Regions from separate parts of the Homo sapiens genome. Here region 1 is linked to region 2. The links come from fine-mapping of genetic effects on gene expression. Tissue or cell type: tibial nerve. Region 2 holds a variant in brackets; the other region holds the start of a gene. All regions are shown on one strand. Distances are from middle to middle. Region 1 holds the start of PALMD (palmdelphin). Region 2 has its middle 44 kb from the start of PALMD.

What was found. PIP is the estimated chance that this variant, and not a neighbour inherited with it, causes the effect.
Region 1: PALMD starts here. The variant in region 2 is fine-mapped to the expression of PALMD in tibial nerve (GTEx, PIP 0.94).

What each region holds. Positions count from the first base shown.
Region 1 is chr1:99,638,510-99,651,535 of GRCh38, forward strand. It overlaps PALMD (palmdelphin), which reads left to right and starts at 7,604. Exons shown (of 8, transcript NM_017734.5): 1 at 7,604-7,853. The coding sequence starts at 7,809.
Region 2 is chr1:99,595,381-99,608,406 of GRCh38, forward strand. No RefSeq gene overlaps it. Among named protein-coding and RNA genes, the nearest start is that of PALMD, 44 kb to the right of the region's middle. RefSeq lists silencers at 1-47, 5,413-5,707. The variant G/A (reference allele first, on the strand shown) is at 5,158.

The sequences.
Region 1 (13,026 bases), 43 kb after region 2:
AACTTAAGGAGAAAAAGGGAATGCAACAAGTTCAGTTGATAGAAGAAACCCCACTTAGTATTTCTTTGTGCAAATCTAGGGCAGAAACTACCCAAATGCTAAAACTTACAATCAGTTACTCTTTAAACTAAAATCACAAACTTTGAGAGAAAAGGAGAAATAACCCTCAAAACAACAATCAAAAAAAGCCCACATTTTTAAAGCTCATAAAACAGCTGAGCACACACAGAAGCAACCTGGATAATTTAAACATCCAGTTTAGTATGCACTACCACATATTATTAACGTATTCAAAATGCTTTTGATTTCAGGAACACTTTTTGGTCCAAATATTTTAAATATTATGTTGAATTGACTGGCTAAAAATGAAAGTGTCAAGTAAAGGTATCACAGTGGAACAGCATTTTTAAATACACCCAAATCCGAAAACAATGCTGAGGGAAGGGCGGCTTCCTTACACTACTAACAAAGGAAGGAAAGTGAATAAGGCAAATGGTCCACACTGAATGCTCTTACTCATAACAAATACATCTAAAGTTCAACCTAGATGGTCTTTTTCATCCTCCTGTATGGTACACACTGTACAAGGGTATAAAAGCACCACAAGGTGTGGACGTGTAAGTGGGAAATTGATAGAGAAAAATGCACTGTGCTGAGGTACCCTATAGCACTTGATCTTTGTGGAATGATAATTACAGACTGTTTAGCCTCCTGCTTTTTCTCCAGTTTAAAGCTATGCTAATACTTTCTATGATGCTGATTATTTTCATGTCCATTTGTAAACTGAGGCAGAGGAAACTAAGATGTAAGATCTCAAATATGTTAAATATTGGTTTCTCATGTTACATGGACATGAGAAGGGAAATAAATTATAGAACATTTTCAATTTGTTTGATGGGTATTTGGGGAGACTTTGCTGTGTGCTTGGTTTGGTAATAGGTTATTTTTTATCTGTGGTTATTTTTGATAGGATATTAGATAACTTAGGCTGTGTTCAGAAAACAGCTGCACCTTTTATCTCTAAAAAGTCAATTGGTTTAGTTAAATATCCTTTTCCACTAAATGGAGCAGTTGTTTGACCTCTAGGAGACTTAGCTGGAAAGCACTGCATAGCTGTTTAAAGAGACAGCAGCATGCTTAACCACACACACTATTTGATTACATGCAAGTAGAATTTTTTTTGTAGTGGTCTATCTCTGGAATACTTTGCTTACAAAAAATTATAGTCTAAGCTTCAAGCAAATTTCAAAGAAAAAGTGATTGTGGACTCTGTTTGCTTACAAAATGTTATATTCTAATCTTTAAGCAAATGTCAAAAAGTGGTTGTAAACTGTTTCCAGTCTTAAAAATCAATTCCACAAATCATCGAAATGATTGAATTTGTGAATCATGCATAATATTGTATTCTACGTCTGGTTAAACCTTGTGCTGTGGTGTCTCATTGCAACTAAGGAAAAAATAGAGGTAGGATAGTATGGTGAATAAAGATGGAACCTTTTGTCCAGACAGTTCTAGATTTAAATCCTGGTTTTACTGCTTATTAGATATATCACCCATTGGTAGATTAGTTAATCTTTTTGAATGTCAGTTTCCCCAATCCATTAAGTAGGCCTATAAGGCATTTGACACATATTGTGCAATCAAATGGATCACAATGATTACCATTCAACAATTATCTGTTGTGTCCACTATGTACCAGTCTGCTCTAAGTACTTAGACTACAGATAAAAAATAGACCTTCTCTGCATGGAGTTTGCATTCTAGTGAAAGAAGACAGGCAATAAACCCCCCAGAAAAGTGTGTCATATAGTATTACAGAACATGACAAAGGTAAAAAAAAAAAAATAGAGCGAGATGAGGAGGATTCGTAGTTTCAGAAAGAGGGATTTGTGGTTTTGTATAGTGTAGTCAAGGTAGCCTCATTGAGAAGGTAGCATCTCGGCAAAGACCTAAGAAGGTGAGAGAATGAGGCATACAGATTTCTAAGGTAAGGGAGTTCCAGCACAGAAGAGAAGTCTAGGCTGGAGATATAAATAAATGCATGAATCTTAGCATCTAAATGGCATTAAAATGAGAGTAAATGAGATCTTGAGAGTGACTGGAAAGGAATAGAAAAGAAAAGATCACCAACAACTGCAGCTTTAGTGCACTGCAATTTTAAGACATTGAGAAAAGGAGAAAGAACCAGCAAAGAAGGCTGAGAGGGAGAGACTAATGACATGGAAATAAAATCAAGAGAGGTGTCCTGGAAGCCAAGTGAAGAGAGAAGGAGAGATTAACTCTGCCCAGTGTCATGGAGAGTTCAAGTAAGATAAGCATCTGTACTGTAGATTGTCTTGAAGCCTACTATTTTTTCCTCATTTACTCTTTAAACCATAAAGCTCAAATTACCTCACAATGAAATGGGTATGTTATAGTACCAACAAATCAAAATAATTTTTATTTGATTTATGTGGTCAGATTTTTTAATTTGATTTATGTGGTCAACCTACTCACATACTATTTGTTACTTGCCTATGGCAATTAAATCCCTTCCAATGGTCTACTAAAGAATAAAAGGTCGATGAAAAACTCACCTTGTCCAGTGATGTGAGAGAATAAGGGTCAAGGATTAAACAAAAGAAAATAGAAACACACTCATTAGCACATGGTAAATCTGAAAGTGAAGATTTTTCTAATGGTTCCTTCAGAGATGTCGTATAAAAAATAAACACCGTATTCTTAGCGTGACACTACTTCTGGCCTCCAGAAGTCTGAGAAGTTATAAAGAGAGAAAGACGGGAAGAAAAAGAGAGAGAAAGAAAGAGAGAAGAGTGAGAAGGAGAATGAGCATCCAGTTTTTTAACACGGGATCTGGTTTCAAAAAGGCTCTAGAGATGTTTTCAACATATACATCCTGCCTTCGGCATCCTTCAATTTTCTCCTGCCACTATTTCATTAGATTTCATTTCTTTGTGATTTTCTATCTGAAATTTCCAATTCAAGCTCCTATTTTGTACTTCATTTGGAACCTATCAAATTCTCATCCTTCTCTCCAGTTGAACACTCTTATTGAAATTTCTTGTAGATTTCTTCCTTATTGGTCATTCCCATTGCCATCCCCCTTGGATTCTAACACATTTGTATTAGCACCTTAAACACTTCTCCTCTACTTACTTTGTCCTTCATGTTCATCCAGTTTGTGGTCTCTGAGTTCAGACCTTCTGAAGGTGAGGAAGAACACTGGGGACCTTTCCTTTTGTGGAACATCAGCAATTTTTTAGTTTCCTTCTACAGGCTCTTTCTACAGACTCTTTCATAGTCACCCTTCCTGATGGATCTCTTTACCTGAATTTTCCCTCCTTCTATATGTTCTGAGACAGTTGGCAGTTTTATTTCCCTAAAATATGAATCTGATCTTTTCTCTCCCACTTTCCCTGAACATCAAGTTCTATGTATAAATGTATATCTCTATCAATCTCTCTAATTTCTCCTTTCTGCTCCAGACAGGACACTCTCCCTTATGGACCTCTAACACATTGTTTCACCCCCTCTCATGCTTAGAAATGGCTTCTCTGCTTCTAAAGTCTACTTTCTCCCTGCAGTCGCTTTCCTGCAACTCACATTAACCTCAATTTTCAATTCATGTTGCACTCACTGCTAATCCCACACACTACTATCATTCACTATGATATACTTTTCTGGGCTCAAATTGTGCAATAGTTAGCACTTTGTTTCATCGGAATACAACAACGGTTGGTTTACTATTCTTTTGTCTTCTAATTGTTTTGAGCACGCGTCTTATCTCTCCAGCCAGACAGTAAATTCATTGTAAGAAGGAGCACTGTCTCATAATCGCTTATATCCCTACCTCCTAATATAATGTCAACTAATTGACTGTAACTTTTAACTCTTGCCATCCTCGTTTACACTGGCTGGAAAACAACAAAAATACTTGGTAAAAGTAGTTCAATAAGATAAATGACAGCAGATAGTGCTCTATTATATATCTATTTTACAAAGGCTGAATTTGGTCATTAATATAAGGTTAATATTTAATGGAAGCTAGTTCGCTAACATATACTGCTTTTTGAACTATAATTCTGGATGTTTTGTGATCCTTCCGTAGTTACAATAAATTTTATAAATCCACCTGAGACTTCTTTCCTGAACTCCAAATTCGTATATCCAATTGCCTACTCAACATCTCCATGTGGAGAACCAATTGACTTTTCCAAAACTTGGTATCCATCCTCTCCCTCAAAAGAAAAAAAAAAAAAAAACCTAGTTCATCAACCTCACTATCTCAATTGATGGCGACTTCTATTCACTCAGGCAAAGAGTGATTATGAATCCTCTCTTTCTCTTAAACCCCTATATCCAATCCACCAACAGAATCAAAAGTTATCCATGGTACAACCATGGTACAACCAAGGTGGTAACACTCTCATTGTTACCACCTTGACACAAGCCACCATCATCTCTCATCTGGATTACTGTAATAACATCCTATCTAGTCTTCCTGTTTCACACTTGCAAAACACTCCTCTGCTTAAAACACCTCAATGCCTTCTCATCCCACACAGACTAAAAGCTAAAGTCCTTACAATGGCCTACTGGACCCTGCATGAATTGGGACCTGTTACATTTCCAACCAAATTTCCTGTTAACCCTCTCTTAGTCCCAGCTCTCTAACCACACTAGCCTTGTTCATAAAACATGGCAGGTATGGCCCACCACAGGACATTTGCACAGGCCCTTCCTGATATGCTTTTCCCATAAATATCCTCATCACGAACTCTCACCTCTTCTTCAAGACCTTGCTCAAATATTGCCTTCTCACTGAGGCTACCTTAGTGACCCAATTCTAAATTGCAACATTCCCTGCCTTAGCCATCTTTATTCTCCTCCCTGCTCTATTTTCTTTCCATAGCATTTATCACTATGGCTGATGAGAAAGTGCCTCTCAGACATTGAACTCCAGGAGCATAATTGACCCAAGAGTCCCAAGCTGTTTCACTCTGAAATCCATTCCTATGTTTGCTTCAAGGCTATGCTTCCCAGGGGCTACTCCCAGCCAGTGACTGAGCATGGCAAGAATGCTAAAATTCCTGAGAAACACTGGACTACTTTGGTTGCTGACAACTGATGTGTCTCATCATGTGTTTATTCATTCATTTAGTTGACAATACTAATACTTGTTAATTTTTTAAGCATTTGTTATTCATTCTGCACATATTTATTGAGAACCTCTGATGTGTCAGGCACTGTGTTAGGTGTCTGAACAAAATTTCTCCTCTCCTGGAACTTACATTCTGGTAGACAATAAAAGATTAAGTAAACAAAATACAGTAGATGTGGAAATGATGATGTTATTCTGGATCCTATAAGAAACAAATGCCAAGATGGGTTAAATGTACAGAATTTTATTAGGAGAAATGACTGTATGAGAGAACATGGGAGGACAGGCAGAAAAGGCTGGAGCTGGACATGTCTAAGAGGCAGGTGAAAGAGAAAGGGAGGCGAAGTTGAGTGGAAACATCCTAATCTGTATTGCAGTCCAAGGGAGATTGTCAAGACCATCAGAGCTCTGGCTCCAGGATTCCACTCAGGTCCCCCAGATTTTCCCAGCTCCAGCCTTTTCTGCCTACCACTCACATGATGATACCAATCAGTTGTTGCAACTCTGCTCCCTCCTAAATTCCCATCCTCTTTTTTTAAATCTTGTCCTCCCCTACACTAGCAAAATCTTGGGTTTTCCTCTAGCAGAAATGAGATTTGAGAGGTAAATTGTTTTTAGGAAAAGATCCAGACTAATAATTGGATGACTGCCCATTTGTTCTAGGCACCAAATATGCAATTCTGACTGAGATATTTATCATTACTGCTTTCTTGTCTTTAATTTCAGCCAGGATCTACAAATAAACATAATCAGAAGTCTTGAAGGTTTGATTTTTTTTACACTTAAATATGTTTCCAACAGTAATCAAACTTGGCACACATCCAAACAATCCTCCCATTCTCTGGTCTCCCTAAGTATCCCTTCTGAGGGTGTATGAGCAAGGACAAACTACTCTCAAGTATAATTTCAGACTCTTAAAACATGGGTTTCACCTTATAGTGACTGACAGAATGAGGGCTCTGTGGTTGGGGAACTCCAGTCAACAATGTGGGGAAACCTCAGTAGGGCCAATAAGTTTCTCCAGAGGACATTCCCACACCGTTCTGCCTTAGGCTGTTACACCCAGCTGTAGTGTTCTAGGAGCTAGACAGAGAAGGAGGCTGGGGGTCCAACCACTTCTCATAAAGACTGACTTAACCTTCAGCCTGTGCCTCTCCTTGCCCCGTGTCCTTGGGCAGTCCTTGATGAATGCCACTTATAAAGTCAGGCAGCTGGTGTTCCAATCCTGGCTTTGCTACTTACTAGCTATATGGCAAATTACCTCTCTGAGCCTGTTCCCTCATTTTTAAAGTAGGGATTATAGCACTTATCTCTCAGCACTTTGCAAGTATGCATTTACCTGTAGAAAGAATGCAACAAATATTAGCTATTATTATTACTAATATCAAAACTGCAAAGGAAATTAAACCATATGTTCAATGTTTGGGTTGTCCTTTTAACCTCTTCAGCTGAATGTTGATATGAAAGCGCTTAATAGCATTCAAACACATAATAATAAGGTAGTTGGTAATTAGGATTTACTTCAGCAAAATTTAATTAAAGAACCTGTAGGGAAAAGAAAACAGACAGAGCCAATTGTACAGCTTCCCAGCCTCTGCTTTGACCTAAGAGTCTCACTGGGCTTGCCTGCCTTTTTCTAAAGGATGGGCGAATATTCACACAGTGCCGGGCTCCAGGCAGTTACCAAATGTCTCATCACATTTTCAAAGGCTCACTCCTCTCTCTTGCGTAACCGGTGAGGTCAAAATGGGCACCTTCCTGAAAGCCAAGAGTGTCATTTCTGAACAGCGTCCAAGAAAGAAAACTGCATTCCATAGAAATCCAAGTCAAGCAATAACAAAAGGTGGCACTTGGTGCTTAAGCCACACTAAATACCTTGGTGGGCCAACTTCTTAATATAGTCACATTAACACCTTTGATTTCTCCATGACCTAAAGATTCCAAAGTTTGCAACAAAGTGCTGAGCAGGGGGGTCGGGGGTGGGGTGTAGACGGGGGAGAACGAACCAATGTAAATTTACCACTACATGAAGTTTAAAGTAGCTATAGATTGTTGTATTATTATCAAATCCAATCAGTGGAAGAAAGGCAAACAAGTGACTTGGCACTTCTGCCTCAGTCAAGGTAAGGCTCTCTCCCCTAGAGCTAGCAAGCAGGTAAACGAGCTTTGTACAAACACACACAGACCAACACATCCGGGGATGGCTGTGTGTTGCTAGAGCAGAGGCTGATTAAACACTCAGTGTGTTGGCTCTCTGTGCCACTCCTGGAAAATAATGAATTGGGTAAGGAACAGTTAATAAGAAAATGTGCCTTGCTAACTGTGCACATTACAACAAAGAGCTGGCAGCTCCTGAAGGAAAAGGGCTTGTGCCGCTGCCGTTCAAACTTGTCAGTCAACTCATGCCAGCAGCCTCAGCGTCTGCCTCCCCAGCACACCCTCATTACATGTGTCTGTCTGGCCTGATCTGTGCATCTGCTCGGAGACGCTCCTGACAAGTCGGGAATTTCTCTATTTCTCCACTGGTGCAAAGAGCGGATTTCTCCCTGCTTCTCTTCTGTCACCCCCGCTCCTCTCCCCCAGGAGGCTCCTTGATTTATGGTAGCTTTGGACTTGCTTCCCCGTCTGACTGTCCTTGACTTCTAGAATGGAAGAAGCTGAGCTGGTGAAGGGAAGACTCCAGGCCATCACAGTAAGTCTGCATACAGTTATAACTCATTAACGTTGTTACTTAGAGGAAGGCAGACCGTGGCCGGCTGCCCCTGTCGCTGAGCCCTCGCAAGTGGAAAAACAGAACTGTCAGCCTTCATGGACGAGTCTCTGTTTCTCTCTTAACCCTCATGACCCTCTGTAACTCTGGGGCTTCAGAACCTGAGTGCAGGGCAAACGTTCTTGATTTTCAAAAAGGCTGTGCCTGCATTTTAAACAACAATCAAAAGCTGTTAAGGCAGTCTGATTAACTATCTTTCACACTCTGTGGTGTACCTTAGAAATGCAGTTTTTCCTTAAATGTCCATTTGACTGGCATTAGATAAAAAAACAGATCCCCAACTTGGAAACTTTTTTAAGCTATGAATGCCTCAAAAAGTTAGAATTTTTTTTAAAGAGAGAAAAAGAAATTTTAAAAATGACCTGAAACTTTATATTTGTAGTGTGGTAGCATGTTCCAGAAAGCCTAAAATAATTAAAATGAATGTTAATATACGTAATTTAAGCATTAAACAAGAGAAAACTAGGTAAAAGCACGTATCAGATTAATTCTAAGATATCAGTTTCCAGCAGAGTCACAAACTGAATAAGATCCTGATAAAGGAATGCAGTGCATGCAGTGGATTTGGAAAATATTTTGTTAATACCGAGAAGGAAAATCGTACATTTTTTATGTTTGTTCCGGGAAAAAGTCAAAGCCAGAAATAAATTACTTTTCTTAAATGATCCAGCTTTCTTTTTAATTTTATAAAACCCTGTATTTGGCAGTAACTTGGAAATCTGTGTCACAATCATTTATCCCTAGCTATAACTTTTGATGTAATTGTTTTAAGAAGAAAAAGATCTTTGGAAAGCAATATCCCAATTTCTCAGCATTTTCTGCCACTGACATTAGGTATAGGAAAAAAATGAGTACTTTTTAAAAACTGATGCTAGATCAGGGATTTTTTGTTGTTGTTCTTAAAATTTTCATTGCATAACTAATTATGCTAATCCTAATTTAGATTTTTTACTAATTGATACAATATCTTAGTTTCACCCAGGAAACATTCAGTAAATTGAAATGTCTTCTTAGCCAATAGTAAGACACCAGAAGTCTATTGATAAGGTTGGCACTTTTCCATAAAACAATGCTTTGTTAAATGTCTAGCTTCTAATTATTACATTTTCCTCTCTTCAGAAAACCTTGGTCGGGATTATTGTTTGTTTTGTTTTGTCCTTTTTTGTCATTAAACTCAGCCACCATCTCAGCTGTCCTGCTTTAAGGGACAGGAACTCGGCTCTGCTCTGTTGTTTTTGGCATGGGCCTTTTACATTACAGCTGTTGTCTAAAGGTTACTTTATTAGACTGCGTGAGTTGTGTGGTCACAGGCTCCACTATTTCTAATGCTTATATCTCCTAATTAGCTAATTGAAATAGACAAGTAGACCCTTGTTCTGAATTTGCCTCTTTCAGTTGGGGGACACCCTCGCTCAAGCCCTTTTTCCCTCCAGTGTACCTTATAACTCTTACCAAAGCCACACATGTTCCAAAGATATGGCTGTATACAGTTATTTCTAAGGCTAGGAATCTTAGTCACTGAAGGTTCCAAACGCAAATAGAGACAGAAAATCCTCATAATGTCTTAAAAGCCATCAAGAGAGTAAGTAGCTTCCTGAATATGCAGATGTATGCTTTTTTGATGATTAAAAAAATTTTTGGATTATTCCATCAGCCTAAATATATCCCATTAGAAAGGATTAAACAAATCTCCCAAGTAAGATCACAAAGTAATTCTAGCTTGGAAGTAATATACTTGTATAAAGGTTGTAGGGAAAAAACTGGAAAAAGTTTATGGGAACAAATTTCTCATAAACCAGCCTACACCTCACCAGGCTAAATCCAGTCACATTTGTCACCACCTAGAGGAAAAGTGGAGCAGTGGTGTGTCCATGGAAACAACACATCCACTCTCCTCCCTCTTGGACGCCCTGGGACACGCCAGCTTTCCTCGCCCTCGCCCTTGCCTTGCCCAGGAAGCCACCTCAGCTAGTCTCTTTCCCCCTAGGAAAATAAAATCACAGAGTATGCAGAGAGTTTGCAAGAATTATTTCATTTTTGGAAATGCTTAAGCCTCAGAATCTCCAACCTAGACTAAAACTCAGAGAGTATCTTCTCATTTTAGCTTTTTCCTAGTACTTACCTACACTGAAATAATTTTTTGTATACTTCAAGAATGAAATCAGAAGGCAATTCCCCAATGCACCCAGACATAGCAACACATAGACCTCACTTTGGAGGAAAAAAAAAAAACTTTTACACTCTAGGATCTATTTGCTTTTTACATTAAAATTCGTTTCTCCAATTGCTGGCTATAAAATAAAATAATCTTCACAGTTGTATTTATTCTACCTGGTTTCAAGTGCCTAAAAAGTCATTATTTTTCACTGCAAAGAACTGAAAAAATAAACGTATATACCTAGAATTTGACAGAACAAAGATCCAAGTGCCAGTCTTTTTCTTTTTCTCAAAAAAAAAAAAAAAAAGGTTAAACACATTAAGTAGTTGAAATGTGACACTTAGGCTCTCAAATTGAAAACTAAATTACTATCGTGATGCCATTCATTTCTCATATCAGATCAGTAAATTGAATTTTAGATTAGTCAGATGTCTTCTCAAAGATTTAAAGAGAATAAGAGCAAAATTATGAAAGTATGCAGAAACAATTGTTCAAGGGTAGATACTTCAGTTTGGGTATACCAAATATAGATTCTATTTTACACAATTACTTTCATGTTCTTCCTTAATACTTTATCCATGCACCAACTCTTCCCTTACTAAATTAATGGTCAAAGTACCCCTTTGCCTAGAAGTTCAGTTTTCAACTATAATTTAAACACAGGGCTGCTTAAAATTAATTAACTATTATGTTTGATCTTTAAAATGTCTCTTGAGGCCCTTTTCAAGTCAGTACACACTTGAACAAATAGCTGATCTTTCTACAAAAGGTGAGCTAATTGGAATTCAATAGTATTTTGAAATAGACTAGTAATTTGAAATTCACCTTTAACAATACTGGAACTGAGGATACCAATGACTCCAGCATTCTCGAGAAGAGTGAGATGAAGAAGCGTGAGATGAAGGACTGAACGTACCACTGACAGAGTTATCCCTACAGAGTTACTGTCTGAAAGTGAACGTGGCCCACACTGAAGAACAACGAAAAGGCCCAGGGGTCTCTCCTCAGAAACACAAAGATTCCCTTAGGATGAGTAACATTCCGTATACTCTTAACATCTCCTCCACAGCTAATACATTTTCTTACCCCCATGCCTACAGCGACATTGGAAAATACCATTACAAATATGGATATGCTCAAACTGGAAAATTAGATCTTAAACTGTCTTGCGATCATAGACTCAGTTCTATTTGAAGGATGAACTCAGAGGAAGTTTAAGAACTAGAATCCAATTTCAGAGAACAGACTCAACTGAGAAAAAGAGAGTAAGAAGAAAGCTGACATTTTTATTCTCCTCCAGGCTTACCTTTAACTGTAAGGAATGTGTGTTATCAACACAGTCTCTCATGCCTTTATTCAATTAATGGTTATTAGGCACCTACTATGCACCAAGCCTTGTGCATTTAAATGAAAAGAAGTGAAATAAGGGGAGTCTGGAATGTGAGGAGTGGGGATGGGAGTGCATTGTAAGTTAAAATAGAGTGGTCAGGATGGGGTTCACAAAGAGGGTGACGTTTGAGCCTAGATGTGAAGGAGGTGAGTTCTGTCAAAAGTTAGACAATAAAAATAATCACAAGTACAAGCACCTGCCTAGGACTGCCTCCATTTGGAAAGGAGCCATATAAAGTCCTGACACTGGAATTTGAGCAACAGAGCCAGATTTTGCCGGCCAAAGCTGCTCATAATGAAAAAAAAAAAAAAAAAAAAAAAAAAAAAAAAAAGCTCTCACATTTCCCCTGATCAACTCCCTACTGCTTTCCACTCCCAAATACCCAAATAAATTTTTCTTGACTTGTAAATATAGGAATTTAAGAGACATGGAGTTCTTTACATAAAACAGAAATCTCCACAGTACAAAGACCAACATTAAAACAAGAACATGAGCACGGATGGGTTCTAGTTATTTCTTTAGCACATGTTCCCTGTTACAAGTGTCTCTGGGCACTCTACCTCATCTTGTTCCCTTTTTGTCAATATCTGGGCTCTTCTAACAGTCAGTAAGACAGTTAGTGACCCAAAAGCAAGACCTGCTGTGTGATTTGTGGGGCCCAAAACACAAGGGAATTGTGGTGGCCCTTGTTCAAAAAATATTCAAAATGTCAAGGTGGTGACAACAGAGCTTTGATCTAAGTGCTAGGCCCTTCTGAGCATGATGACCTGGGTGACTTCACAGGTCACAAACCCAAGAAGTCAGCCCTGCTTCTGTATTCCAGACTGGCCATACATATTTTTCCTTATTCGTTCTATCTGAACAAATAAGAGAGTAAAAACAAGTGTAAACTAGTCTGTGTCTTTAACAAAGGCATACCCTAACACGTGTTTGGATCATTGTATTATTTAGAGCTCTAAGGAATTCTTAAAGTACTAGTGGCCAAAGAATGCATAATGCCCCATTGTTAACCAACATACCTCATGATTAAGACATAGTTAGAGGAACAACTTCTAATTTGTCAGGAGCTTCCAAAGAAATTCACATGAAGATGGTACATGAAGATGTAGCAGTCTTCTAAATAAAAAAGTCCCATTCTGGAATATTCAACAATGAAACCTCAGCACAATTTTCCACAGTGCTGTACCAAGATTACATGTTTCTTCCAGAGAGGGAAAGGTTTCTTCAAACAAATGTGGTACGCCACACTTCTTTGCCAAACATAACAGCCCACCCATAAAGGACACCATGTGATGAGGTATAATAGTTTTGATAGCTCATTAAGGAAACTGCTTTTTGATAACTGGGGAAGGTTTTTCCACTGTGCAACAAAATGATAATGCTACTTTGCTAACTCCTCTACTGACAAAGATCCCCATGAACTTTCTGAACATTACTGGATGGTTGAAAGGAAAAGCTGCTTCTTTAGAAAACTGTGATTAAAACAAATTAGAGAATAAGCATCTAAGACTAACCAGAGTATAAACAAATGCAACACAGTTCAATTC
Region 2 (13,026 bases):
TTCTCTCTTGCTAAGCCATAGTTCCATGAAAATATTAATAGAAACCATGCCTTCCTGCCCCATGCCAAAAAGGTGAACCAGCAGATAGAGACTACATGCACGAGCTGCAACTGTGCCGGTGTTCTGAGGGTAAAAGAATATGGGTACTATTTCATGCAAATCTCATGCAGGTTAATATAGTCAAACCCAGAATTATGAGCCTTCAGGAAACAAATCCATCTGTTAGGAGGGCTCTAAATTATATATGGCATCCTAGCTGAAAGGGAGTCTGGACAACACAGTTCTGCAAGCTTTGCAAGGAGGCACAGTAGAGTTTGGAAGAGATGTTGAGCCAGCCCACATAAGATATCTGTTATTATAACCAACACTTATTAAATGCATATTGTGTTATGTGCTGCCCTCAATATTTCATATATATTAATATTATCACAGTTAAATCCTCATTACAATCCATAAAATGGATATTATTACTATTCTTCCCTTACACATGTGCCCACTGAGGCTCAGACAGTTAAGATCACAAAAGACCCCTTTAAACTAGCCATCTGACTCCAGAGCTCAAGCTTTTAACCACATTTTTGTCTAAGTATTTGTCTTGTTCACTGATACACTGTCAGTACCTTCTTTTTTTTTTTTTTTTTTTTTTTTTTTTTTTTTTTTTTTTTTTTTGAGACAGAGGCTTTATCTGTTGCCCAGGCTGGAGGGCAGTAGAGCGGTCACAGTTCACGGCAGTCTTGATCTCCCAGGATCAAGCAATCCTCCCACCTCAGCCTCCCGAGTAGCTGGGACTACAGATGTAGTCCACACCCAGCTAATTTTTGTATTTTTTGTAGAATCAAATTTTTGCATGGGTTTCACCAGGAAGCTGGCTTCATAAAAGGCTTCAGATTCAGGAGGGGAAGATGGCACAGCAATCTGTGTTGTGTGGACTAATGACCAGGGACCAGGTGGGCATGAGGACGCCTGGTCTCAAATGCTTGAACTCAAGTTCAAGCTCACCTTGGCCTCCCAAAGTGGTGGGATTACAGGCATGAGCCATCATGCCCGGCCATGTTCTTGATAAATAGAAAATGCTCAATATGTGTATTAGTCCATTTGCATGCTGTATATAAAGACATACCCAAGACTGGGTAATTTATAAAGGAAAAAGATTTAATTGACTCAGAGTTCCACATAGCTGGGGAGGCCTCACAATCATGGCAGAAGATGAAAGAAGAACAAAGGGATGTCTTACATGGCAGCTGGCAAAAAGAGAATGAGAGCCAAGCAAAAAGGATTTCCCCTTGTAAAACCATCAGATCTCGTGAGACTTATTCACTACCATGAGAACAGTATGGGAGAAACCATCCCAGTGATGCAATTATCTCCCACTGAGTCCCTCCCACAGCACATGGGAATTATGGGAGCTACAACTGAAGATGAGATTTGGGTGGGCACACAGCCAAACCATATCAGTACATAATTATTAAGTTGAATACCCACCTCTATGCAATTATGAAAGACTTTGGGTCTTTTAGTTTAGCTCTGTCCTATTTCTCCTTTTACTTGGCGCATAATAAGTGCTTGGTAAAAAATAACATTGGCTGACCCAATGGAACCTAGTGAACCTTAAAGAGTTGTCAGCATTTGACAACTGTAAAGCTCTGAGAATCAAAATCTTGGCCTTGAAGTTGCAACCTGAGACTCTTTGGAACTCAAGGCATCACAGAAGTTTTTGAAGAATTCAGCATAATTCCAGACATCCCTGTCCAGAACATCACCCTCTTCCTCCACCTGAAACCACAGATGAGATAAATCTTCATAGCCAGATTAGTTGGGAAGGAAGAGCTGGAGAGGAGGCAGTGGCAATGGCATGTCCTTCAGAAGAAGAACTGTTCTCTTCCCTCCCTGAGTTGAGTCCCCTGTGATGGTGGAATTCACAGAAACCCAGATTGGTTTGGTAGATTCAAGAGCAAAGAGTATCTTCACACTCTGGAGGAGGGATATCCTGCAGAGGTATCAAGAGCTAAAATGCTTCTGTCACCAACTTAGTAAAGTAATAGTGGAGAAGAGATAGTTCTGTGGAGTGCTTAAGCAAAAGGAACTGGCAGAATTCTCTGTGTCCCAAAGAAGTGTAAGAAGAGCTAAATGTTGCCTTTGTACCCAGAAGGTGCATCCAAGTAATGAAGGGAGCTGGCCACATAAAAGCATCAGATTCAGGATGGGAAGATGTCAGAGCAATCTGTGTTGTGTGGACCGATGGTCAGGAAGCAGACAGGCCTAAGGATTCCTGGCAGATGCCCGCATGTCCAGACCAGGAATTCACTCCACTGCACTTGACCTCTTGCCTCCAAAATATCCCCCAAATTTAGATTTCAAATCAAGAATTAGAAGGAGACCAAAAAAACCAAACACCGCATGTTCTCACTTATAGGTGGGAATTGAACAATGAGAACACATGGACACAGGAAGGGGAACATCACACTCTGGGGACTGTTGTGGGGTGGGGGGAGGGGGGAGGGATAGCATTAGGAGATATACCTAATGCTAAATGACGAGTTAATGGGTGCAGCGCACCAGCATGGCACATGTATACATATGTAACTAACCTGCACATTGTGCACATGTACCCTAAAACTTAAAGTATAATAATAATAAAATAAAATAAAATAAAAAAAGAATTAGAAGGAGTAAAATACTAACTGATAGAGATTAAGTTTTCCAACTCCTGGTGGAAATATCACTTAAAATTTTTATCATCAGACAGAAAATAAACAAAATTAATTTTTTTCACACATGAGTTCTGGGCCAAAATTTACGTCAACTGTAAGAAGTTGAACCAAGCAGTCTACTAATACGTAAATACTCAATGAAATAACTTTCAAAAGTGCCAATTTAAAAAGTAGAATTGTCCTACTTTTTAAGGACTGCACAAGAAAGTCTATCAAGAAGGAAAAAAAGAAGAGAAGAAAAAAATACTGATTATTTTAACATTTTAATATTAAATTAATTGATTAACACTATTATATTTAATATTGGCAAAAACCACAATTACACCTGCACCAACCTAATATAATGGAAATTATAAATATGTGGAAATTTTGACACCAATGAATGTGAATCATTTTTAGTTCTTCTGGAATAGAGAATGTCAACATTGCCTTAGAAGTAAATACAAAGTGTCACTGCAAGCCTTCCTTCTTTCATTTATTCCTTCAACAGATTTTATTGCATAACTAGTACATCAAGAACCAAATAAGCACATAGAATAACCTGGCATCCAAAAGCAATATAGGAATCAGAACTCAAGACTAAGGAAAAAACTTTAAAAAACCATAACAGGACCATGCATAATCTATTATTTATTACCATAATACCTTATTAACATGTATTGAGTACCTACTAAGTGCCAAGCACTGTGCTAAATATATTTGTGTATTATAGAAAGACATGCTAATCCTCAGATCACTTCAGCAAATGAAATTGTTTCAGCTTTGGACAACTCACACTCCCTTACATGACTTCATATTCTCCTGTTTCTCCCTTATCAACAGGATGAAGAACATGGCTTGTTAAACAGCTCCCTCTACTATATATCAAACCTGGTGCCAAATTGATACCAGGGGTTGATCCAAATTCCTTTAACCTGGGACAGTTCACTAGCATTGTAGCCAGATTCAAAAAGGCTGGACTCCATCTAGATCACAATTTGTTCAGGAACACCTGAATTATGCGTTTCCTTCCCAAGTACACACACCCCTACCCTCTCATCAACACTCACAGTCCTAGAAATGTGCAATATCCCACATAAACTGAAGAATATGGTTTTTCTGAGGCCCCTGGACCCTGTCCAGCTGGCAGAGGGACATCATGAGAGAGCTCCTGAACCCATATGAGTCTGTTCATCACTGATACCAGTACTGATACCTTGGTTTTACTTACAGTGAAAGTCAAATGAGATCATCTATGTGATAGGCTTTTTAAACATGCTATACAATACCATACAAATGTTCAACCTCATAAAGTACTTTCATACTAAGCTCCGCTGGGCCAGGCTGGTACCTGACTCAGGACTGAAGTGACCCCCAACTTTTATTGAGTTGAATTTGACCTTATCTACTAATCTGTGTCTCCTCACTAGACTCCAAATGATGGGAAATTAAGGAAGTAGTACACATCATTTATAATGGCTTATAACTGTGGGAAGCAATGTTTTTTTTGCACAAGGGCCAATCCGGGAAAAAAGAAAATTTATGTAGGCTGCAAAAAATTATTAAAGAAATGAAGACATTTTCTACAGGCCATACAACCATCAGTTCTGAGCAGCAGCTGGAATTTGCACATCTCACTTAAGGCAATATTTACTGATGGGTGCTCAGGAAAGAAAGATGAATGAGATGAGCCTTCCATCCTCCACAGTCAGCCTTCATGGCTCTAAAGTTTTCATTCTTCTTGGGTGAATCATGCTCCTAGGAATGATACCATCACTGCTAGTTTCCTGGAATGGCCAGCCTCCCAGGCCGGTTGGAGGCCAGGCAGCTGCACAAGTCTCTTGTGGTTCCCGATATCAGGGGGTCACACTGGGTCAAGGCCTGGCTCTGCCACACAGAGTCCTCCACTCTGAAGACTGCACCTCTGGTTGCCAAAATGACAACCTGCAATTCTTTAAAGTCACTTCCATGGTTACTCGAAAGACCTCCCTCCCCAATTCCTTTTCTTTGTATTAGTTGAAAAGCAGTGCTTACGCTGGTTTGAGGCGTAAAACTACAGGGCCTCTTGCTCAGGTTGCTGGTAGCTTCTAAGTGGACTAAAGTTTTTAAGTCCAAACACACAGGATCTTAATGTAAAACCCAGCACCAAGGTAAACTATTCTTGCTGTATTGATGCTGCTGTCATGTTAGAAGGAAACATGGCACAGACCACAGAAAAAGCTTGGCATCATCATTACTTACCTATATAATGGAGACAAAGTCCTTTGGTAACCTCTGTTATCACAATATTTGGATCTATATTGCCAAAATGAAGACCCTTAGCAATCTTCAGTGGCTTGGGGGAGTTCAATTTACCTAAGGAATAAAATTAGGTTAAAAAAATCTTAAAAAAAAAAAAAGAGTCTCAGACAGCCAAATCATTGGAGACCAACAGAGATGCATTAAGGATTGAGATCTGAAAAAGACT[G/A]CAGGAGTCTTTCTATCAAGAAAGAGTGACCATAGAGAAAAGACCATAGAAGAAAACAGTGACCATAGAGAAAAGATCAATCCAGCCCTACAGCTCCGAAGAAGACAAGTGGCGTATCCTGAGGGGAAAATGTAAAGGGGATTGAGAAACTTGTAATAAAAATGACTGAATTGGGAGATGTCAAGGAGAGGGGAAGACAGAGAAAAGAAACTGAGCTTTTTCTCCGCTGAGAAAGTGCACAATTTTTCGGAGAGCCCAAAACTCCATGAGAAAAAGGTTCTTCTTATTGTTTGCTCTTTCCTCTCACAGCAGCCTAGCTGGAAAGCAAAGTCAGCTGGAAAAACACAATGCAACCTTCTGTTCAAGGGAAAGTGGAGGAAAAAGAAGTCCAAGGTTGCCTCCTTCTTACCCACTCTTGAGGCACATTTTTATCCCATTGTTGGACTCTGCGTTTTCCCAGGGGTTGCCATGGCATCAAAGAGACAAATGCCTTGCTCCTGTTTTAAAGCTGAATTCCCTAGCAAACAAAATTGTTTCCATTTGAGGATATTCTCACCCTCACACGAAACCAGAACTGCTTTCAAAACAATGTGTCTTTTTAAAATATGGATGAAATGTATTGCATTCTTCTGGTAATAGAAGAAACATATTTTTATTTTTAAAATGCATAAAAACATTTGAAAAACGAAATGCAATTGCCCTATAGATCTTCACCTACAGGTGGTCATGGCTCACATTTTGGCATATTTATTTCAGGTCTTTCATCTATAAATGTATATGTATTTTGTATTATACACTGCAAAATTGCAGCCCAATTACATATGCAATTATGCATGCTCCTATTTCTTCACTTGATATCCCATAGACACACTCTTCGGAAGCAGGGCTATAAAATCCAGAGATGCTCTTTATAGAGCTTTAACATTTTGCTCATTTGCATCTTGCATATTCTTATGAAAAGAAGAATTTAATAAGACAGCAGTTTGGCCTTTATGTCCCCATGAATCTAAACGTTTGAGAGAAGTTAGCAGCAGGGAAGCATGGGTTAACTGTGTTAGAAAATGTTTGCAAAGAAAGGCCTTTGCTCTCCATTAATTTATGCTATGAAAGAGAGAACACAGATAGTTTCATATATTATCCTGGGACTATATAAAGAAAAGAAACTGAGAAGTTAACTATAAAATGTCATGATTTTTCTTTCAATAGTTACATGTTCTTTAAAATTATAAGCATATTTTACAATTAGTAATTCATTAGCCCATTCATCCTTGCAAAACAGGTCAAGGTTAGTAGGAAACTGGACTCTGATGGGTGTAAAAACATGCATGAAGATAGTGTGCTATAGTGGAAATGTTTCTAGTTTCACATCAAACTAAAGTGGTTTCTAAACTAAGCCCTGCAATTAACACATGTGCGACCTTTGACATGTTACTAAAGTTCCCTAACTCTCAATTTCCTTATCTCTAATAATTTAGATTGAAAAAATGTCCAGCCACACGGTTGCACTGAGAATTAAATGAGAAGAAATATGAAAAAAAAAAAAAAAGGCCAGGTGCAGTGGTTCACGCCTGTGATCCCAGCACTTGGGAGGCCAAGGTGGGAGGATTGCTTGAGGCCAGGAATTTGAGACCAGCCTGAGCAACATGCAAGACCCTATCTCTATCTTTTTAAAATAAAAATTTTAAATTTAAAAAATGTAAAAATATGAAAAAAGCCTTACTCAATGCCTGACACATAGTAGGTGCTCGGCAAATATTTGTACTCTTCTTTCAATGGCAACCTGAGCTAGAACTTAAATTCTATCCTAGCATTACACCATTTCTATAAACAATGATGTTTGCAGTGTTCATTATCCAAGTGGCTAGTGATTCTATGTTGTTTTTTAGCTCCACATTAACAAACGTTCTTGGTAAACACTGCCTCCAGTCTCCTCTTAGTAAAAGTTATGTGATGTAAAGTTTTCTAATGAAATTTAAGAGTCAGGAAGAATAGGAATGTTCACATTTCCAATAGGTTCCCTTTTCTGAATTCCCATCACAGTAGAGGAAACAAGTTAATTTGTGTACCATCAAAACCCAAAGAAAATAAAAGACTTCCCCTGTTTGCTGTTAAGAATTTCCTTAACTATTCTACCAGGGCTTCCAGAATCAAGATTAAAAAGAAAAAGAAAAAAATTATGTCTCTGCACATTTCATATCAATGGAAGGATGTTGAAACTGTGCTGGTAAACAGAGTAAGGAAGCAAAAGCCTTGTTAGAACCTAATTGTTTTCTAATTAACCAGACTGGAAGTGGATGTTTTCAGGGTTTGCTCAACAGACTTTTGAAGATTATGAGATTAAATTAGACCAAGTATTTACAAAAGCTCCTGAAAATATATAGCAGACACCAAAAACATTCTTGTTAATATGGCCAAGATTGATTTAAGGCCTAAGAAATAGTAAAAGCATGGTTTATTTTTGGATATTCAATTTATTTACTTAGCGTGTCTTAGTCAAGGTAACTAAAATCAAAACCACTTGCATAGGTAAATCAGTATCACATTAGAAATGGGACAATTCATACCCCACATTTATATCCACCCCAGGTACTAATTAGTACTGGTATAAAATAGATAATTGATGGATTAGATAGACAGATAGATAGATATAAAGGAAAACACTATTTTTTTTCTTTTTTTGAGATGGAGTCTTGTTCCCTTCACATAGGCTGGAGTGCAGTGGCACAATCTCTGCTCACTGCAACCTCCACCTCCTGGGTTCAAGCAATTTTCCTTCCTCAGCCTCCCAAGTAGCTGGGATTACAGGTGTGTGCCACCACGCCTGGCTATTTTTTTTTTTTTTTTGGTACTTTTAGTAGAGATGAGGTTTAGCCATGTTGGCCAGGCTGGTCTCGAACTCCTGACCTAGATGATCCACCTGCCTCGGCCTCCCAAAATGGTAGGATTACAGGCATGAGCCACCACGCCCAGCCCACTATTTTTAACCATTTAAAAATTATTTAGTTACGTAACTGACCTACACTGCTGAGATAACCTATAAATTTCTATATATTGATTTCATTTTACGGATGATGGATTTGGCTAATCATCTAAAGACTTGAAAATCAAAACTGAAATATCTGGATTTTCTTCATGCGACAATGAGGAGCCATTGAAAGTTTTTGATCATGAAGGCTATGGTTACATTGTCACTAAAATGTCTTAGAAAGACCATTCAGAAAGTAGTTTGCAGAATAAACTGAAGGTGGGAGAAATTGGTGGCAGAAAGGTAAAATAGGAGGCTAATGAAATAATCCAGAAGAGAGGTCATTTTTAAAAGTGTGGTATTACACAAGTGTGCTTCCACTGAAAGGAATTTTATTTGGTTTGGGTGATTTGGTTTTGGTTTCAATTTTAGTGTTTTGTTCCTTCTACCCCATTAGTGATACCTTTTCTATTGTCTTTTATTCTTTTTTTTTTTAAATTTACCAAATACCCAGACTTCAAAGAGATATCTTTTTTTCTTTAGAGGAAATACAGCTATTTTCCCAACCCACTCCTTCCCCAACACATTCTCAGAAACTTCTGGCTTGTGACCTTCCATTCGTGTTTTAGAGTCCAGCCTCTGGTTCTCTGTAACTATAGGAGCAGATGTTGAAATCAGCCACAGTGTTTTATATTCAGCTCCCATCCTCTCCTCTCAAAGTACATACAAATGTGGGCCCCTCAAAGAAGCCACCTTTATATGCAGTCATAGACTATAAATTCTTTGTGAGATTACTTCTCAGCAAAAGAGAGACATGAAATGTCTACCAGCCAGCATTCCCAAATGAATCTTGACTTTTAATCCCACAAGATCTTTCAAACTGAGGTGAATTTCTTTGCAGTGAGACTTTGCAAATCCACAAAAAGTATTTCCTTTTAAGATGCCCATTCCTGAGGTTTTTGAGCTAAGGAAAACTGACTAGGCTTGGCAAGTGCAGAATTTGTGATTCTAGTGGTCTGCATTTTGGGTCCCAGACTTTTAATGATGGTAAAAAGACTTCTCATTCTTTTGAAAAGTATTGCCTGCCTCAGGGAATATATGTATTTTCCTTTTTCACTATGGGAATATCTTCCTTCTTTGGAATACACTTTTCTACCTGAAATAAACTGAAGAAATAGGAATCTTGATGATGAAAGAAAAATATGATGTTTGTTTTTACGTGATCAATAAGTAAACCTTCCTACTGATCTAATAAACAGCCAAGAAAATACGACATAATTGACAAAGCTCAATGACGTTTAAAATTGAAAGATATTTTAAGAATTATCTAGTTTAACTTTTCTTTTTTTTTTTTTGAGACAGAGTCTTGCTCAGTCGCCCAGGCTGGAGTGCAGTGGCGAAATCTCGGCTCACGGCAAGCTCCGCCTCCCGGGTTCTCGCCATTCTCCTGCCTCAGCCTCCTGAGTAGCTGGGACTACAGGTGCCCGCCACTACGCCCAGCTAATTTTTTTTGTATTTTTAGTAGAAACGGGGTTTCACCGTGTTAGCCAGGATGGTCTCGATCTCCTGACCTCATGATCTGCCCGCCTCAGCCTCCCAAAGTGCTGGGATTACAGGCGTGAGCAACCGCGCCCGGCCTTAACTTTTCATTTTTTACATGAAAAGGGAAACAGTTCTGTACTTTGTAAGAAAATAATTCCTTGCTGAGTGTACTAGTCTGTTCTCACAGTGCTAATAAAGACATACCCAAGACTGAGTAATTTATAAGTAAAGAGTTTTAATGGACTCACAGTTCTACATGGCTGGGGAGGCCTCACAATTGTGGCAGAAGATAAAGGAGAAGCAAAGGCACATCTTACGTGGTGGCAAGCAAGAGGGCATGTGCAGGGGATATAGAACCATCAGGTCTGGTGAGACTTGTTCACTATCATGAGAACAGCACAAGAAAAAATCCGCCCCCATAATTCAATTACCTCCCACCAGGTCACTCCCATGACACATGGGGATTATCGCAATTTAAGGTGAGATTTGGGTGGGGACACAGAGCCAAACCATATCACTGAGCAAAGTATAATGAACTAAACTAAAGAATATTCTCAAATTTCTCTAATAAAAAATCTAAAACAATGCCTGGCAAATTGTTCAGAGTTTAAGGATTATCTGATATGGAAAATATTCAGGAGAAGTATTATTTGAGGACTAATATGTTTACTATGCTCCAAGATCTATTTAACATGCCAGATTTGTTAATTTAAATGTAGGAGAAAAATATTTTTAAAACCTCTGGCACTTTCTCAAAGCACTTATCAAATAATTTTGAACATCCCTGTTATCTTTATCTACCAGTAAACTGTAAGCTCTGGAAAGATAGGGATGGCATCTGACTTGCTAATAACCATTATTATAGCAGTGACTAGGGACAGCAAGTTTTCCGTTGCTATGTGTTGAATGAATTCACTAAGTAATTAATGAAGATTCTAACATCAGGGCTGTTTTAAAAATAAACTTTTTACTTTTGAAATATTTTTAGGTTTACAGAAAAGTTGTGAAGATAGTAACAGAGAGTTCTTATATACTCTTTACCCAGTTTTAGTTTTTCCTAATGTTACCATCATACTTTTTCCATGGTACATTTGTCAAAAGTCAACATTAGTACATTGCTACAAGGTAAACTCCAGACATTTCTTGGACTTGAATTAATTTTCCCAGTAGCATTCTTTTTCTATTCCAGTACCCAATCCAGGGAGCCACATGTGTTTAGTTATCATGTCACTGTCACTTTAATGTCCTCTGGTCTGTGACAGTTTCTCAGAGCGTCCTTATTTTTCACCACCTTGAGAGTTTTTAGAGTATTGATTATGGATTTTGTAGAGTGTCCTTAGAATTGATTTTGTATGATAATGCTTTTCTCATCACTAGACTGGGATTATGTGTTTTGGGAAAGAATGCCACAGAAGTGAAGTGTCCTCATTACACATATTAGGGGAACATGATATGCATATAACATCACTGGTGATGTCAACCTTGGTCACACGGTTAAGATAGTTTGCTGGGTTTCTCCACTGTAAAGTCACCATTTTTCCCAATTCCTACTCTATTCTTTGAAAGCAAAGCTGTAAGTCTAACAACATTCAAAAAGGGGAAAGGAAGTTTCATCTACATAAATTATTTGAAATTTTTCTGTCAGGAAGATTTGTCTCTTCTCCCCTATTTATTATTCAATCATATTTATCTATTCTTATACTGATATATATATAAATAGATATACATAAATTTATAGATACATTCATATATATGAAATAGAAAATGAATGTATGGATACATTCATACATATATATTCATGTATATTCATATGTATGTACATATATATTCATGTATATTCATATGTATGTACATATATATTCATGTATATTCATACATACATATGTATTCATACATATTCATACATATGTATTCGTATATATGTATGGATTTATCCATAAATTTATTTTCTATTTCATATTACATTTCTAAATTATGCTACTTATTTTGTTGCTCAGATGAGTCCAGCTTTGGACATTGGGCATTCCTTCAGTTTGACTACTGCATTGTATTGATATGCTCCCATTCTTAAATTTCTTTTAGCACATCCTTACTTTTTGGTACTACAAGATGCTCCAGGACCATCTTGAATTTTTTTTCCCAGTTCTAGAACCAGCCATTTATCCAAGGACCCCTGGTTCATTAAATTGGAAAATCATATTTATAAACCAAGATCTGTTCACTGGAGTGCTTGTCTCTCCTGGGTGTGACTGCTTCTAGATTTTCACTGTGGCAGAGCCAGATAATGTATGTATATTATCATATGTATAATATATACACATCAAAATATTTCCTATTTGGTTTTGGTTTGCTCCTTCTGTGTATGTATTTGGGGTTTTTTTGTATGAAGTTTCCATTGTTTATTTATTTCCAATTTTTCATGTCATTTATTACTTTTTTTAAGAAATTCAAATTCTATTTTGCATATGGGGTATGTGTGTTGGTTTGTTACATGTGTATATTGCAGACAGGTAGTGAGCACAGTACCCACTAGGTAGTTTTCAACCCATGCTCCCTCCCTCTCTTCCCCTTCTAGTAGTCTTTAGCGTCTTTTGTTCTCATGTTTATGTCAATGTGTGCTCAACATTTAGCTCCCACTTTTAAGTGAGAACATAAGGTATTTGGTTTTCTGTTCCTGCATTAGTTCACTTAGGATTATGCCCTCCAGCTGCATCCATAGTGATGCAAAGGACATGATTTCATTCTTTTTTATGGCTGTATAGTATTCCATGGTATATATGTACCTTATTTTCTTTATCCAATCAACCACTGATGGGCATCTAAGTTGATTCCATTATCTTTGCTATTGTGAATGGTGAGGCAATGAACATACAAGTATATGTGTCTTTTTGGTATATGATCTATTTTCTTTTGGGTATAGACCAAGTAATGGGATTGCTGGGTTAAATTGTAGCTCTGTTTTAAGTTTGTAAGAAATCTCCAAACTGCTTTCCACAGTGGCTGAACTAATTGACATTTCCACCAACAGAGTTAAAGCATTTCCTTTTCTCTGCAGCTTTGCCAGTATCTGTTGTTTTTTGACTTTTTAATAATAGCCATTCTGACTAGTGTGAGATGGTATCTCATGATTTTGATTTGCATTTCCCTGATGATTAATGATGATGAGTATTTTTTTTCATGTGCTTGTTGACGACATGAATCTCTTCTTTTGAGAAGTGTCTGTTCGTGTTCTTTGCCCATTTTTTAATAGGGTTATTTGTTTTTGATTGTTGATTGGTTTAAGTTCCTTATAGATTCTGGATATTAGACTTCTGTCAAATGCATAGTTTTCAGATATGTTCTCCCATTCTGTAGGTTGTCTG